Linked DNA regions of Homo sapiens. The protein of the gene in region 3 interacts with the protein of the main gene of each other region in a pairwise test. Each region holds a gene or a part of one and is shown on either strand. Other genes may lie near its edges.

The links.
Region 1: the proteins of TIAL1 (region 3) and SNRPA interact in binary tests that used the Homo sapiens proteins (3 or more experiments, as listed by UniProt).
Region 2: the proteins of TIAL1 (region 3) and RBPMS2 interact in binary tests that used the Homo sapiens proteins (3 or more experiments, as listed by UniProt).
Region 4: the proteins of TIAL1 (region 3) and MAPK1IP1L interact in binary tests that used the Homo sapiens proteins (3 or more experiments, as listed by UniProt).

What each region holds. Positions count from the first base shown.
Region 1 is NC_000019.10:40,757,589-40,761,426, reverse strand, and holds part of SNRPA (U1 small nuclear ribonucleoprotein A), read right to left. Parts: intron 1,997-3,838; coding exon 1,817-1,996; intron 1-1,816. UniProt on the Homo sapiens protein: Component of the spliceosomal U1 snRNP, which is essential for recognition of the pre-mRNA 5' splice-site and the subsequent assembly of the spliceosome. U1 snRNP is the first snRNP to interact with pre-mRNA.
Region 2 is NC_000015.10:64,747,806-64,751,643, forward strand, and holds part of RBPMS2 (RNA-binding protein with multiple splicing 2), read right to left. Parts: intron 3,834-3,838; coding exon 3,756-3,833; intron 2,577-3,755; coding exon 2,538-2,576; intron 1,689-2,537; coding exon 1,626-1,688; intron 1,346-1,625; coding exon 1,195-1,345; intron 763-1,194; coding exon 614-762; intron 1-613.
Region 3 is NC_000010.11:119,576,404-119,580,241, forward strand, and holds part of TIAL1 (nucleolysin TIAR), read right to left. Parts: intron 3,608-3,838; coding exon 3,532-3,607; intron 2,432-3,531; coding exon 2,323-2,431; intron 1,334-2,322; coding exon 1,238-1,333; intron 1,133-1,237; coding exon 1,048-1,132; intron 801-1,047; coding exon 677-800; exon of another isoform or gene 503-676; coding exon of another isoform or gene 485-502; exon of another isoform or gene 348-484; coding exon 208-347; intron 1-207. UniProt on the Homo sapiens protein: RNA-binding protein involved in alternative pre-RNA splicing and in cytoplasmic stress granules formation. Shows a preference for uridine-rich RNAs.
Region 4 is NC_000014.9:55,057,995-55,061,832, forward strand, and holds part of MAPK1IP1L (MAPK-interacting and spindle-stabilizing protein-like), read left to right. Parts: intron 1-3,160; exon of another isoform or gene 3,161-3,177; coding exon of another isoform or gene 3,178-3,179; intron 3,180-3,685; coding exon of another isoform or gene 3,686-3,689; coding exon 3,690-3,707; intron 3,708-3,838.

The DNA.
Region 1 (3,838 bases), on a different chromosome or scaffold from region 3:
ACTATATTTTGTGAGTTGTCACATTTGGATCTGCAATTCACTTCAAGTTATATTTTGCATATAGTATGAGGTAGGGCTAATTTTTTCCCCTTGCAGATACCCAACTGCCCCGCATCATGAACTAGGGGAAAAAAAGTCCTTTCCTCAGTGAAGTGCAGTGGTACCTCGATCACACATCAAGTAATTATACAAGTGTAGCTGTACCTAGACTCTTCATCCTGTCCCCTTGGTCTGTCTTCCTACCCTTCTGCCAACTGTATATCATCCTGGTTGGTTGCTGCAGGTTTTTTTTTTTTTTTTGCACATGGACGTGGTGGCATGTGCCTGTGATCCAGCTACTTGGGAGGCTGAGGCAGAAGATCACTTGAACTTGAGAGGCAGAGGTTGCAGTGAGCCGAGATTGCACGACTGCATTCCAGCCTGGGGAGACAGATTGACTGAGACTCCCTCCCGAAAAAAAACAAAAGAAAACAAAACAAAACAAAAAAGAGACAAGGTCTCACTCTGTTACCCAGGCTGGAGTGCAGTGACAAAACCACTGTTCACTGCAGCCTTGACCTCCAGTTCTCAAGCGATCCTCCCAGCTCAGCCTCCTGAGCAGCTGGGACTACAGGAATGAGTCACCACGCCCAGTTTTCTATTTTATTTTTTGTAGAGATGAGGTCTTGCTATTTTATAGAGGCTGGTCTTGAACTCCTGACCTAAAGCAATCCTCCTATCTTGGCCTCCCAAAGTGCTGGGATTACAGGCATGAGCCATTGGGCCTGGCCTGGTTGCTGGAGCTTCCCCTGGTCATGCAGGTCCTGGTGCTTTATTCTCCTCGCCTGGCTTGGCCTTGTCTTTCCACACATTTAGAAAGAGCCAATCAGTGTCCAGTGTTTACCGAAATTCCTGGTGGGATTTTGATTGCAATCACGTTGAATCTTCAATTAATTTGGATGGAACTGACCTCTTGACAATACTGAGTCTTCCTATCCATTGCTGAGTCTCTGATTTCTCCCAGCTACATTCTGTGATTTCAGTGTAGTCGTTCTGCAAACCTTTTGTTGGATTTACCCCTCAGTGCTACTTTTCAATGTGAAGTCTACTGGTCTGTTACTGGCATATAAAAATAAAACTGGGGGCCAGCCATGGTGGCTCATGCATGTAATCCTAGCACTTTGGGAGGCTGAGACAGTGAGTTTGAGACTAGCCTGGGTGATATGGCTAAGCCCCGTCTCTACAAAAAATGCAAAAGTTAGCTGGGTGGAGTGGCACGGACTGACAGTTCCAGCTGCTAGGGAGGCTGAGGCGTATCACTTGAGCCTGGGAGGCGGAGGTTGTAGTGAGCTGTGATGGCGCCACTGCACTCCAACCTGGGTGACAGTGAGACCCTGTCTCAAAACATAATATGAATAAATAAATAAAACTAATTTTTTTCCATATTGCCTTTATATCCAGCGATCTTTCTAAATTTAAGTTCACTTATTAATCCTAACAGTTGCTTAGTAGACACTTGGATTTTCTACATGCACAATGAGTTACAAGACACAGGCGACAAAATCAAGGCCACGGAGAGAGCGAAACCAAGTCATAGCCATGAAGAAAGACCTTGAGAAACAGTCACAAGGAGGGAACAAGAGTTTCGAAAGGAGATAGCATCATCTAGGTGCTCAATACCCCCCAAAAGAGAGAGAGAAACACATCTCTATAAAGAAATGGAAAGGAGGGGTCTGAAGCCCCAAGGGGAGAACTCTCCCCACCCTGTCCCAAAGCCAGTCCATGTGGCTGAGGAAGGTCTGGCAGTGGGAGGGTTGGTCTCCGGGACCTGGCTTACCGGGACAGGCCCCTGGACAGCCCCCACCACGGGGGTGGCTCCCCCGCCTTGCACAGCCTTCTTGGTGGCCGGGGTCTCCTGGCTCTTGGGCTTCCTCTTCTCCCGCTTGCGGTCCCGCTCCACGAAGGTGCCTTTCATCTTGGCAATGATATCTGAGTCGGTCTTGGCATACTGGATACGCTACCAAACAGAGAGCAGAACGGGTTAAGAGCGTGGATTCAGAGCCCAATTGCCAAGATTCAAAATTGGACCTTTATCAGGGGCCAGGTGCTGCGGCTCATGCCTGTAATCCCAGCCCTTTGGGAGGCTAAAGCGAGCAGATCACTTGAGGCCAGGAGGTGGAGACCAGCTTGGCCAACATGGCAAAACCCCATTTCTTTGTTTCTTTTCTTTTTTTTTTTTTTTTGAGACATTGTCTTGCTCTGTCACCCAGGCTAGAGTGCAGTGATGAGATCTCAGCTGACTGCAACCTCTGCCTCCCGGGTTCAAGCAATTCTGCCTCAGCCTCCCTACTAGCTGGGATTACAGGCGCCCACCACCACGCCTGGCTAATTTTTGTGCTTTTAGTAGAGACAGGGTTTCACCATGTTGGCCAGGCTGGTCTCGAACTCCTGACCTCAGGTGATCCACCCACCTCGGCCTCCGAAAGTGCTGGGATTACAGGCATGAGCCACTGCGCCTGGCCAGGAAACCCCATTTCTACCAAAAATACAAAAATTAGCTGGGCATGGTGGTGCGCACCTGTAGTCCCAGCTACTCAAGAGGCTGAGGCAGAAGAATCGCTTGAACCCAGGAGGCGAAGGTTGCAGTCAGCTGAGATGGCACCACTGCACTCCAGCCCAGGCAACAGAGCAAAAAACAAAAAACAAAAAACAAACAAACAAAAAAAAATTCAGACCTTATCAGGAGCTTACTGAGAAACACAGAAATATCTTGGCCTTAACTTCCTTGTCTGAAAAATGGGGATTATGATACTTCCCACTTCAAAGGACTGTTGTGAGGACTAAATGAGTTAAAGTGCTTGGAACAGTACCTGACACACAGTAAGCAAGTGTTCAGTAGAAAGGCTGTTGGTATTTTTAAGGGAAGCTGGAACAGCAATAAACATCAGGCCAAAGGACCGAGGAGACAATGCTAGGAGAGGAGTGCAGTGCAGGGGGATTTCCTGTCACACAAGAATACTTCAGTCTTCCAGGTTCAATCTCACTCACTTAGCTGTTTAAGGAGAACCTGCCAGATGCCAGGCGCCATTCAAGGCTCTGGGAATAAAGCAATGAACAAAATAGACAAAAACCCCTCTTTCATGGTGCTTATTCAGTAGGGGAAGGTATGTTAAAGATTCTTAGTGTGGCACAGTAGCTCACGCCTGTAATCCTAGCACTTTGGGAGGCTGAGGCAGGCAGATCACTTGAGCTCAGGAGTTTGAGACCAGCCTGGGCAACATGGCGAAACCCCGTCTCTACTAAAAATAAAAAAATCAGCCAGGTATGGTGGCACGTGCCTGTAATCCCAGCTACTCAGGAGGCTGAGGCAGGAGAATCACTTGAACCCGGGAGGTGGAGGTTGCAGTGAGCCAAGATTGCACCACTGCACTCCAGCCTGGGCAACAGAGGAAGATTCTGTCTCAAAATAATTTATTTATTTATTTATTTATTTATTTATTTTTTCTGAGACAGAGTCTCACTCTGTTGCCTAGGCTGGAGTGCAGTGGCAGGATCTCGGCTCACTGCAATCTCTGCCTCCCGGGTTCAAGCAATTCTCCTTCCTCAGCCACAGGAGTAGCTGGGACTACAGGTGCATGCTGCCACACCGAGCTAATTTTTGTATTTTAGTAGAGACAGGGTTTCACGGTGTTGCCCAGGCTGGCTGCAAACTCCTGAGCTCAGGTAATCCACCTGCCTCGGCCTCCCAAAGTGCCAGGATTACAGACGTGAGCCACCGCCCTCGGCCAAAGAAAAGATTTTTAAATGAGGCAAGGTGCAGTGGGAGCCTGGTCCAGCCTCACCTTGGCAAATGAACCGT
Region 2 (3,838 bases), on a different chromosome or scaffold from region 3:
CCCAGAAGCATTCACTCCCTGTTTCCTGCCCGGCACAGGTTCACAGTGGACAGCGTCCAGCCTTCATGGAAGCGAGAGCCAACACTCAGGGCGCTCTAGGTTACATCCTAGCACTCAGTAGTCACTTCGTCTTGACATCTAACTTTCACAACAACCCTAAGGCAGATTATCTGATCATTCCCATTTTTCAGATGACTAAAAAAAAAAAATCGAGGCACAGCAATCTGTAAGAGCTTGATGAAAGGGACAGGAAGGGGCAGAGGCAGATGGTCTGACTCCAGAGACCATACCCAGGTTAGGACTGGAATCATAGTCCCATCACCATGGGAGAACATAGTCGGTGCCTGGGCAGGGGTGCTTGGGGCTGGGGAACCACAGCTGGGCTGCCTGGCATCCTCCATGGGAACTCGTGGGTTATCTTCTCCCTCCCTGTCAAATCCTAAACCCAAGGGGAGGACAAATAGGTCCCTGGGGTCTGGGCTTTCAAACCATCAAGGAAGACAAGAGTTCTGCTGCAGCTCTGGGACAGCAGCGGCCAAGTGGCCAGGCACATGCAAAGTCTGGCCAGCTAAGAGCCCTTGTTCTTCGCCCTCCCCAACCTTAAAGGGCTTACCTGAGCGTGGAGGGCGGCGGCAGCGGCAGTGGCAGTTGGGTAGGTGAACGCAGCATGGGAGATGGCTGGGGTCAGCTCTGTGGTGTACAAAGGGTAGGGGGCCCAGGCCTCTGGGGATGCAGGGATCAGAGCAGCCCCCATCAGGTCATCTACAACAGGAGACAATGGCCTCCATCATCAGAACACTCGCCTCCCCTTCCAAACGGAGAAGGGGACCCAGCACTATGGTTGAGCCATATGCCCCACACTGAGGCCAGACCACCCCCAACCACAGAGGACCCCGAGACCAGGCAAGGAAGCCACGTTAAATCGGCCTGTCATGGTGTGCATCCTGCCTGCTTTAAGACAGGCCTCAGCTCGTCTCAAATGAGAAATTAAAGAAGGTTGCAGGGAAGCTGGAAGCCCTGGCAGCTCAGAAATTCTAGGCAGGCTGCAGGGGAGGGAGGAAAACCAGGTGTTTCAAAAATGGGTGGCCGTGGACACAAAAAGCCTCCTGGAAAAGGGGCTTCCCTCTGCAAGAGCCTGCAAGTCTGCCCTGAATGCAACTCCATGAGGGCCTGCCAGCTCAGAGTGCCACTCACAGGGGTCCCGTGCGATGAAGTGTGCTCCTAGGGCGGGGTGCACGTTGCTGGGATTTGGAGTTGCCATTAGCTTGCTCTTGGCCATCTTGGTGTTGGCTTTGGCAAACTCTAGCCTCAGAGTCTGTGGATTTTCGGGATCAAAGCGAATACCCTACATGGGTAGAGAAAAGAAGAGAAAGGCTTACTCCGGGGGACCCAGAGTGTTAATGGCAGAGAGTAGAGAAGGGCGCCATAAACAAGCTCGCCTCGAAGACCTGCCCACACGGTGGCTGAGGCAGAGGAAAGGCAGCTCAGGCCTTGAGTAATGGCCTTTGGCACAGACAGTGTCGCCAAGGACTCTGCCCAGGGATGGCCGGGAAATAAGATACATCTGCACACCCACTGCCTAAGAGGGCTGTGAGTCAGAGAAGACCTGTTCTCCACCTACTCACGTTCAGCGCATTCTTGGCCGCTTCTGCTCCTGCACGGCTGTCAAAGATCACAAAACCAACAGGCTAGTAGGAAAAAGAGAGAACACCCTTATATCTCTCCTAGCATTCCACCTCTCCCTCCAAAATAACAACAAAAAAAGAGTATCATCTATGTGGAAACAGTATTTGCCCTGCTGATGAGAATACAAAAGGAAAAAAAGCCCCCCAAAACTCCAGCCCACATCCTCCCTGTTCACTGGAACAGCAGTTTAACATGCACCAAAAGTCAAGTCTCCCTCCCCAGGAATATCCTGTGGGAAATGATGCCAACAGAGCTTAATTCCACTGAATTAAACGTCGCCCTTTTAGTAAAAGTATTGTTTTTAATGCATGCAGATAACTAAAAGTAAGTCCCAGTGTTTTCCCCAGCAAGAAAGGGGACACCAATGTATCAAGGGCATGGGAAGACTCCGGTTCTATCAAGGAGCAATAGGTTGAAAACTGCTCCAACTTCATTTTCCCAAGGATCAGTCTAGACCCCAAATAGCCCCCAAAGGCTAGCGGGCCCTGGCCTCCTTGTATTAAAAGCTAGAGCTCAATCGTGCCATTGCACTCCAGCCTGGGCAACAAGAGCAAAACTCCATCTCAAAAAAAAAAAAAGCTAGAGCTCAGCTAACTGCTTTACTGTCCTCAGCCAGCGGGGCTCCCAGATTCCTAAGAAACAGACAGGGAGGACCAGGAGCTGGCTGGGCTCAGATGGCCAGTGAAGAGACAGTGGGACCTACAGAGGCTGCTCTGTCAGAAACAGGACAACAGGGAGCGCAAGTCTGTACCGCCAGATGCCTCTAGATTAGGGAAGGGTTAACGGGCCCTTGTTTGAAGCTCAGCAGCCGGTCTGGGCTGGGAGGAAGAAAACCCTAGGAGAGAAATTACCTGTCTTGCAGTGAGCTTGATCAGGGACCCTTCATACCCCTGCGGAGAGAGGTGGCTGTTACCGTGGAAGGTCAGAAGCGTATGTTGTGCTAGCCCAGCGCTGCCACCTCATCAGCCCCCGCGTTCCCCTGAGTCATTCTCACACCCTTCTCCCTGTCAACATCAACCCACCCTGACCTCCGCCACTGCCAAACGTCCACCGCCCTGCGTTCTGAATCACGCGGTCTAGCACATAGGGTGGGCATCACGCGGCAGCACTCATCACTTCAGGCAGAAATTCCCATTTGCTCCACTAACTAGTAACCCGAGAGCACAGACCTTACCTTTTAAGTTTTCTCATCTGCAAACTGAAAAGGCTACACTGAATCTCAAAGATTCTTTATATAACCACATATATTTAAAGATTCTTACTGTTAGCTGGGCATCATGGCTCACGTCTGTAATCCCAGCACTTTGGGAGGCCGAGGCGGGCAGATCACAAGGTCAAGAGATCCAGACCATCATGGCCAATATGGTGAAACCCCATCTCTACTAAAAATACAAAAACTAGCCAGGCATGGTGGAGGGTGCCTGTAGTCCCAGCTACTCGGGAGGCAGAGGCAGGAGAATCGCCTGAACCCAGGAGGCGGAGGTTGCAGTGAGCCGCACGCCACTGCACTCCAGCCTGGGCAACTGAGTGAGACTCTGTCTCAAAACAAAACAAACAAAAAGGACAAGCGCCGTGGCTCACACCTGTAATCCCAGCACTTTGGGAGGCCGGGGCGGGCGGATCACGAGGTCAGGAGTTCAAGACCAGCCTGACCAACATGGTGAAACCCCATCTCTACTGAAAACACAAATATTAGCCGGGCATAATGGCGCATGCCTGTAATCCTAGCTACTTGGGAGGCTGAGGCAGGAGAATTGCTTGAACCCAGGAGGCAGCGGTTGCAGTGAGCCGAGATCAAGCCACTGCACTCTAGCCTGGGCGGCAGAGCAAGACTCGTCTCGAGGAAAAAAAAAAAAAGATTCTTACTGTCTCCATTTAACTGGCGAGGAAACAGAGGCTCAGAAGGCAGCATGTGAATTCGCAGAACCAGGACACGGGCTGGACCTGCCCCCACAGCTTCTGCCACGCCTTCCCGCATCATCCTGCTGCCCTGCCCGACCCGAGATTCACTCCCGCTGCTTCTCCAGGGTCCCAGGCTCTACCCAGGGGGCGGCTGGGTCCTGACTCACCTTGAACGGCCGGAAGAGCAAGTAGAGTTCTCTGGGTTTAATGTCCACAGGGAGGCCGCTGACAAACAGTGTCCGGACCTGGA
Region 3 (3,838 bases):
TTACCCCAATCCCCCCTTTCCACCTAGGTAATGAGAAGTAATTTCTTAGCCTCATAAATCATATTTTGTTAGATTAGTTTCTATAATGCTCATAATGCCAAATAGCTCAATGTATATAATTAAAATAGATTCTCCCTAGGAAAACACACTTTTATTTATTTTGTCAGAACCATACGTTTCTATACTGGAAAAACCCAAACAACTTACTCTACTCCAAATCCTTGTTGATTCCATGGTTGCCCGTATACTCCATAAGGCGGTACTTGCCACCCATTTGCCATATACTGTCCATACTGTTGTGGGTTTCCATACACTTGGCTCCATTGGCCCCATTGACTATAGTCAACCTAGGAAAAAGCAAAGTATTGTTTTAGGGAACACATAAGAAACACCGTATATGAAGAAAGAGTGGGAGACAAGGAAGAGAAAAACTAAGTAAGCACCCTTATGTGAATAGGACTCTGTTATTTATCATTGTCTAAGTTTATTGGGGTGGTGACACCTGTGAAAAGAAAGTATTAAGATTCAGTTAATACCGCAAATAATCAATTTTGAAATACAATCAACTGAAAGTAGCTATATGCTTTATTTTATTGTTCATTTTACAGAGTTTCCAAAGCTTTTATGTGACATGTAAGATGGAAACCTTAAAGAATGCTATGAAAAATCGAATTACCTGTTGGAAGTTTTTAGTCATATCAGGAGATTCTTTACCCCAATAGCATTTAACCACATGTCCTTCAATCGTAGTACCGTTCACCGAAACAATGGCATGGGCTGCACTTTCATGGGTTGAAAATCTAAGAAAGAAAAATGATATGGTTTTGTCTTTTATTTTTTAAGAACCTAACACAATAAATAACATGGAAACTCATCAGTTTACACCTGCAAGTTGGTATTTTTTTTCTAAAGTACATTAGGTAGGTAGCTTAAACTTCTATACTGCAAAGAAGCACTAAAATAACAAACACTGATACCCTGGAGAACATAAGTGAAAGGAATGAATCAAATATAAGAGTAATAATGATATTTCAAGTAGAGTGTTACCTGACAAATGAATAGCCCTTTTCTGGGAAAACTCTTATTTCCATAATTTGTCCAAATGGTGAGAATGTCTGTCTCATAAGCTGATCTATAAAACAAAACATACAAATAAAACATGGCTGATGTGTATCATGAAATTCATATGAACAGTGATGAAGCTCCTCAGAGGTGATTAGAAAACCAAACATTGTACCTGTTAACCCAGACGCAATTCCTCCACAGTACACAGTACAATTTTTTGGACTTGACTGGTTTACTACATCTTCAAATCTCAACTGCTTAGTGTTGTCTGTATGCAGAAACAAAACAAAAACGTTGACTGTTATATTGTACTATGAAACTCTTCTGTTAATTACTATATACTATTAAGATATGCCTCAGGCCGGGCACCCAGCACTTTGGGAGGCTGAGGTGGGCAGATCACCTGAGGTCAGGAGTTCGAGACCAGCCTGGCCAACATGACGAAATCCTGTCTCTACTAAAAATACAAAAATTAAGGCAGGGCACGGTGGCTCACGCCTGTAATCCCAGCACTTTGGGAGGCTGAGGCAGGTGGATCACGAGGTCACGAGTTCGAGACCAGCCTGACCAACACGGTGAAACCCTGTCTCTACTAAAAATACAAAAATTGGCTGGGTGTGGTGGCACACGCCTGTAATTCCAGCCACTCAGGAGGCTGAGGCAGGAGAATCGCTTGAACCTGCGAGGCGGAGGTTGCAGTGAACTGAGATCGCACCACTGTACTCCAGCCTGGGTGACAGAGCGAGACTCCACCTCAAAAAAAAAAAAAAAAAAAAAAAAAAGATATGCCTCAATGGGAGGAGAAAACATAATTTTTCTTGATGCTATGATTTGACACAGACTTGATCTATAAAATCAGGTGATTCACAGCTCCAAAAATACTTATACCACAGCCCAATTATTTTCAGATAATGAAATATAAAATGAAATAATTAGAGTCTTGCAACACTAATTAAATACTACGTCAGCCTGGACAACGTAACCAGACCCTGTCTCTATAAAAAAATTACAAATTAGCTGGGCATGGTGGCATGTCCCTGTAGTCTCAGTTACTCAGGAGGCTGAGGTGAAAGGATCACTTATACCCAGGAGTTTCAGGCTACAGTGAGCTAAGATCATGCCACCGCACTCCAGCCTGGGCAACAGAGCAAGACCCTGTCTCTTACATAAATAAATTAGAAATTGAGACTAGATGAATACATGATACATGATTTTGTGAAGAATATAATTTTAACACACACAGTGGACATATCTTACTTTCTTGTGTACTTTTAGGTGCAGGTGGTTTACGAGTGGCCCAATTGGTTCGGATTTGACGACCACCCAACCACTGACCGCCCATATGCACAATCGCATTTTCTGCATCCTATGGATAAAAAAGAAAGCACAATCACAAAGAAAAGAGTGATAAATAAGACTCTGTAAGATGAAATAAAATATCGGCGCTGCTGGTTCCATACAAATCAGTAGATGAATTTACTAAATATCCTAAACAAAACGAAACTGAACTATTACCAATTAGAAAACGATTTGAACTTGAGATTCAATCTAAGCAAAAACAGAATACTCTGGCCCTTTATCTTACCACTTCAATAAAATGTAGATGACCTGTAATCCCAGCACTTTGGGAGGCCAAGGCAGGAGGATCACTTGAGATCAGAAGTTTGAGACTAGCCTGGCGAACCCAAGTGAAACCATGTCTCTACCAAAAATATAAAAATGAGCTGGGTGTGGTGGCACATGCTTGTAATCCCAGCTACTCAGGAGGCTGAGGCAGCGCGATCGCTTGAACCCGGGAGGTGGAGGTTGCAGTGGGCTGAGATGGCACCACTGGACTCCAGCCTGGGCAACAGAGCGAGACTCTATCTCAAAAAAACAAAACAAAACAAAACAAAACATTGATTTAAGTTATTGAAACTGCTTTAAAATCAAAGCCCACTTTATTATTTAATGTTACAGTTAATGCAAATGCTTACTTTGGTACCCCTTTTACAAAGAATATATGCAAAAATCAAGATGAATTGCTTAAATTTTTATTTACATAATTTGTTGTAGTCATTCACATCCCAGTTATATAAGAGTATGAATAATAATTTAAAAGGTAGAGTTAAAACTGAGATTTTCATGGTTAAAACTGAATATAATTTACCTAACCTCTAAATTCTCAGATTAGCTCATCTGTCCTAGACTTGGGCTTTACTTCTAAATCCATCTGACCTTTACCAATGTACAAACACAATTTTAATAATCTTCCTTATAGTATAATCATTCTTTTTCTAGCTATTTATTTTCGAGTTTATGAAAGAGGAATGAAATTATACTCTATTATTAAAACATACATAACATTACATAAAAGTTGTGTTTGTAGTTAACATTCAAGTATATTCAAGTTTCAGATTCAATACATTAAGTAACTAATGACTAAATTTAGTATTAAAAAATATAAATTGAGATGGAAGAACGTACCAGTTTGTTATAAAAAGATACAAAACCATAGCCTTTGGATTTTCCAGTTGCCATGTCTTTAACTACCCGGGCATCCCTGTGAAAAGAAGCACAGCTAAATGAGGGAAGTAAGAGCCACCCTCAAAATAAAAACTAAAAGGAACCACACACACTGTATTGTGAGCATTTTTAAAATAAAATTCCAGTTAGCCCTAATTAACTACAACCATTCCTGAACTCTCCCTAATGCTTCTTTACCTGTTAGAAAAAAGCAGTAGGACAAAAACATGTAATAAACATGCAACCTAATCAAATAGCCTGTGCTTTC
Region 4 (3,838 bases), on a different chromosome or scaffold from region 3:
ATTATTTGCCTCCCTCTTCCAGTTCAGGGTCTCAATGGCTGGAGCCTTTCTTGGCAATTCAGAGTCCAAGTTGGGAACCAGCCCTGAACTGGACGCCATCCCAGCACAGGGTGCTCTCACCTACACCCACGCTCACAGACTGGGCCGCGTAGACACATCCATTCATGTGCATCTTTGGGATATGGGAGGAAACTGGAGTACTTGGAGAAGACCCATAAAGATGGGAGAATGAGCCAGCTTCACACAGACAGTGACCTCAGCTGAGACTTTTTGTTTTTTCTTCTCATCAACATTATAACAAAACAAAGTTGAATGAAACGTCTTTCGAGGACCTGCTATAGACTAAAATTTTAAAACCCTGTCCCATATATGAACGAACAATTAGAAAATACAGTAGAAGAAAAGAGCCTATTTACAACCACAGGGAAAAGTTTAACAGAAATCCCTTAAAAGAAATGTATATAGGAGATCTGATCAAGAAAATAAACTACATGAAAAGGACAGGAACTAAACAGTCCTCTGTGTCTGCATTTGCGGGTAGAAAATATTCAGGGAGCCGGGTGCGGTGGCTCATGCCTGTAATCCCAGCACTTTGGGAGGCTGAGGCGGGCGGATCACGTGAGGCCAGGAGTTCAAGAGCAGCCTGGCCAACGTGGTGAAACCCTGTCTCTATTAAAAATACAAAAAATTAGCCGGGCATGGCGGCGCTTGCCTATAATCCCAGTTACTCAGGAGGCTGAGGCAGGAGAATCTCTTGAACCCAGGAGATGGAGGTTGCAGTGAGCTGACATCATGCTATTGCACTCTAGCCTGGGCAACAGAGTGAGACCCTGTCTCAAAAAAAAAAAAATACTTGGGGGAAACAATAAAAATAACCATAGAAAATATAAGTTAATATAATTATATAGTATTCACACTTTTAAGTATTATAAATAATATAGAGATGATTTATACGGGAAGATGTGCATAGGTTATATGCAAATACTACACCATTTTATATCAGGTACTTGAGCATCCTGGGATTTGAGTATCTATGGGGGTCCTAGAACCAATCTCCCTCAGGTACCGAGGGACTATACTATACCTTGTTCTTGAACGAGATGATTTGACATTTTAAATAGATGTTCCCCTAGATTAATCTGTAAATATAATACATTTCCAACCAGAATGCTAACACATTAATTTTTTTTTTTAACGATCTGGAAAAAATAAAAATACATAGGAAAATCTGAAAAAAAAAAAAAAAAAAAAGACAGTAGGGTGACTCACATTAATGTTTATTTAAAATATATTGTAAAGCTTCTGTAATTAAAATGGAATGGTACAGTTGCAGACCAGTAGAAAAGAATAAAGTCAGCTGGGCACAGTATCTCACGCCTGTAATCCCAAGACTTTGGGAGGCCGAGGCAGGCAGATCACTTGAGCTCCGGAGTTCAAGACCAGCCTGGGCAACATGGTGAAACTCCATCTCTACAAAAAAACTAGCTGGGCAGGATCGATTGAGCCCAGAAGGTCGAGTCTGCAGTGAGCTTATGATGGTGCCACTGCACTCTGGCCAGGGAACAAAGCAAGACTGTTTCAAAAAGAAAAGAATAAAGTCCACAATATCTGTGGGAAATGAAGGAGGCTCTATAGCCTGCTTGTTAAGAGCCTAAGTTCTGGAGTCATACTGGGTTTGAACTGCTTCTCTCCTTGTCATTAGCTCTGGGACCTTAAACAAGTTAACTTGCCAAGCTTCCTCTTCTCCAGCTGTAAACTGGGGGTGAAAATAAAATTTGTATCTGGGTTCTGGAGCTACCAAGTGAGGTGGTGCACAGTACACCACCATGTTCCATGTTTCATGGTAAATATTGGATAGATGCTAGTTATAAATGGCAGCAGTATAGTGTAGTAAAGGTAGCTTGTCCAATTAGCTGAGAAAAGATAGATAGTTGATAATTATTGTTTGGAAGAATTTAAAGGTTTTAAACAAGAAGTTAAACCATAAAAATACTATATGAAAGCAAGGCAGAGTAGGGAAGGCCTTTGTAAATATATCACAAAATCCAGAAGCCACGTATAGGAAAACATTGATAGATTTGATGACATGAAATTTAAAACTTTTGTATAACCAAAATATGCCCTTTAAGAGATCTACAGATAAAAGGAATTTTGGAGAAATTTTTTTTTTTTTTTTTTTTTTTTTTTTTTTTTTTGATATGGAGTAGCCCTCCGTTGCCCAGGCTGGAGTGCAGTGGCGCAATCTCGGCTCACTGCAAGCTCCGCCTCCCAGGTTCATGCCATTCTCCTGCCTCAGCCTCCCAAGTAGCTGGGACTACAGGCACCCGCCACCACACTGGGCTAATCGTTTTTTTGTATTTTTAGTAGAGACGGGGTTTCACCGTGTTAGCCAGGATGGTCTCGATCTCTTGACCTCGTGATCCGCCTGCCTCGGCCTCCCAAAGTGCTGGGATTATAGGCGTGAGCCACTGCACCCGGCCAAAAAATTTTAATCTCATATATGAAAGCTAGTCTGCTTAGTATCTTACAAAGCAGTGAGAGAAAAAGATGTGCTACTGAGTAATAAAATGATCAAAGGCAAAGAGTACCTACAGTCTTTTATTTATATAAAGTCAAAGAACAAGCAAAATTAAGTCAAAAATTGACTGCCATGAGGCAAGGTAGTTGATTGGAAAAGAGCATGAGTAAACTTTCTGGAGTGAGAAATGTTCTGTATCTTGGGGTGGTTATAGGGGCGTATACAATTATCAGAGCTTGTTAATCTGAACACTTAAGATCTCTGCATTTTGTTGAGTGCTAATTACACTTCAATTTAAAAATTGGTAAAAGTACTCCAGGACATCAATAAATTTAAATTTGGGAGTACACACAGTGGCTCATGGCTATAATCCCAATACTTTGGGAGGCTGAGGCAGGAGGGTCCTTTGATCCCAGGAGTTTGAGACCGGGTCTGGGCAACATAGTGAGACACCTGTCTCTGCAATAAATTTTTAAAATTTTAAGAAATTTGCTGGGCATGATGGCACACACCTGTAGTACCGGCTATTAGGGAGACTGAGGCAAGAAGATGACTTGAGCCCAGGAGGTCAAGATTGCAGTGAGCTGTGATCTCTCTCGCCACTGCACTCCAGCCTGGGTGACAGAATGAGACCCTGTCTCCAAAAAAAAGACGAGGAAATGTAAGTTAAAATAAGACGCTAATTTTTAATATCTATTGTCATTATAAACAATAAATTTAATAATATCCAGTGGTAAAAGGAGTTAGAGAAATGAGTGTAAATTGGCATGGACTTTTCAAATGGATTTTAGATAAATTTATCTGTTGACTCTAAATTCCATGTCCAGTGCTTTTTCCTGGTGTTAGATTCTCACACACAAACAAAGAAGTGTTGAGAGATGTTCACTGTATCATACTTAAAACAACTTATACTGCTACAAAAAGAAGGTAAATTAAATTGCAAATCATTTTTGTATGATGTGCAGCCATTAAAAGGGATGAAGTTAATAGAGCTGTATGAACTATTATGGAAAACTTTCCTATGTAAAGAAAAACACATTACATAAATAAGATTCCGCTTAAGTAATAATAATGTATGCATAGAAAGTTCCTTAAGGAATATTTAAGAAATGGTGAACACTGATTTTGAAATTTTTCTTTCTTCCTTCATTTCTTTTCTTTTTTTAGGAAAATGTCTGATGAATTTTCGGTAAGTTGATCAGTTTATCTGTGATAAGTTTTTCATCTCTTAAGAAAAACAACATGGTCCTAACTGGGCTACGTAAATCTTTTCACTTAAAAGAGATGCTTTAACCAGGCATGGTGGTGTGCACCTGTAGT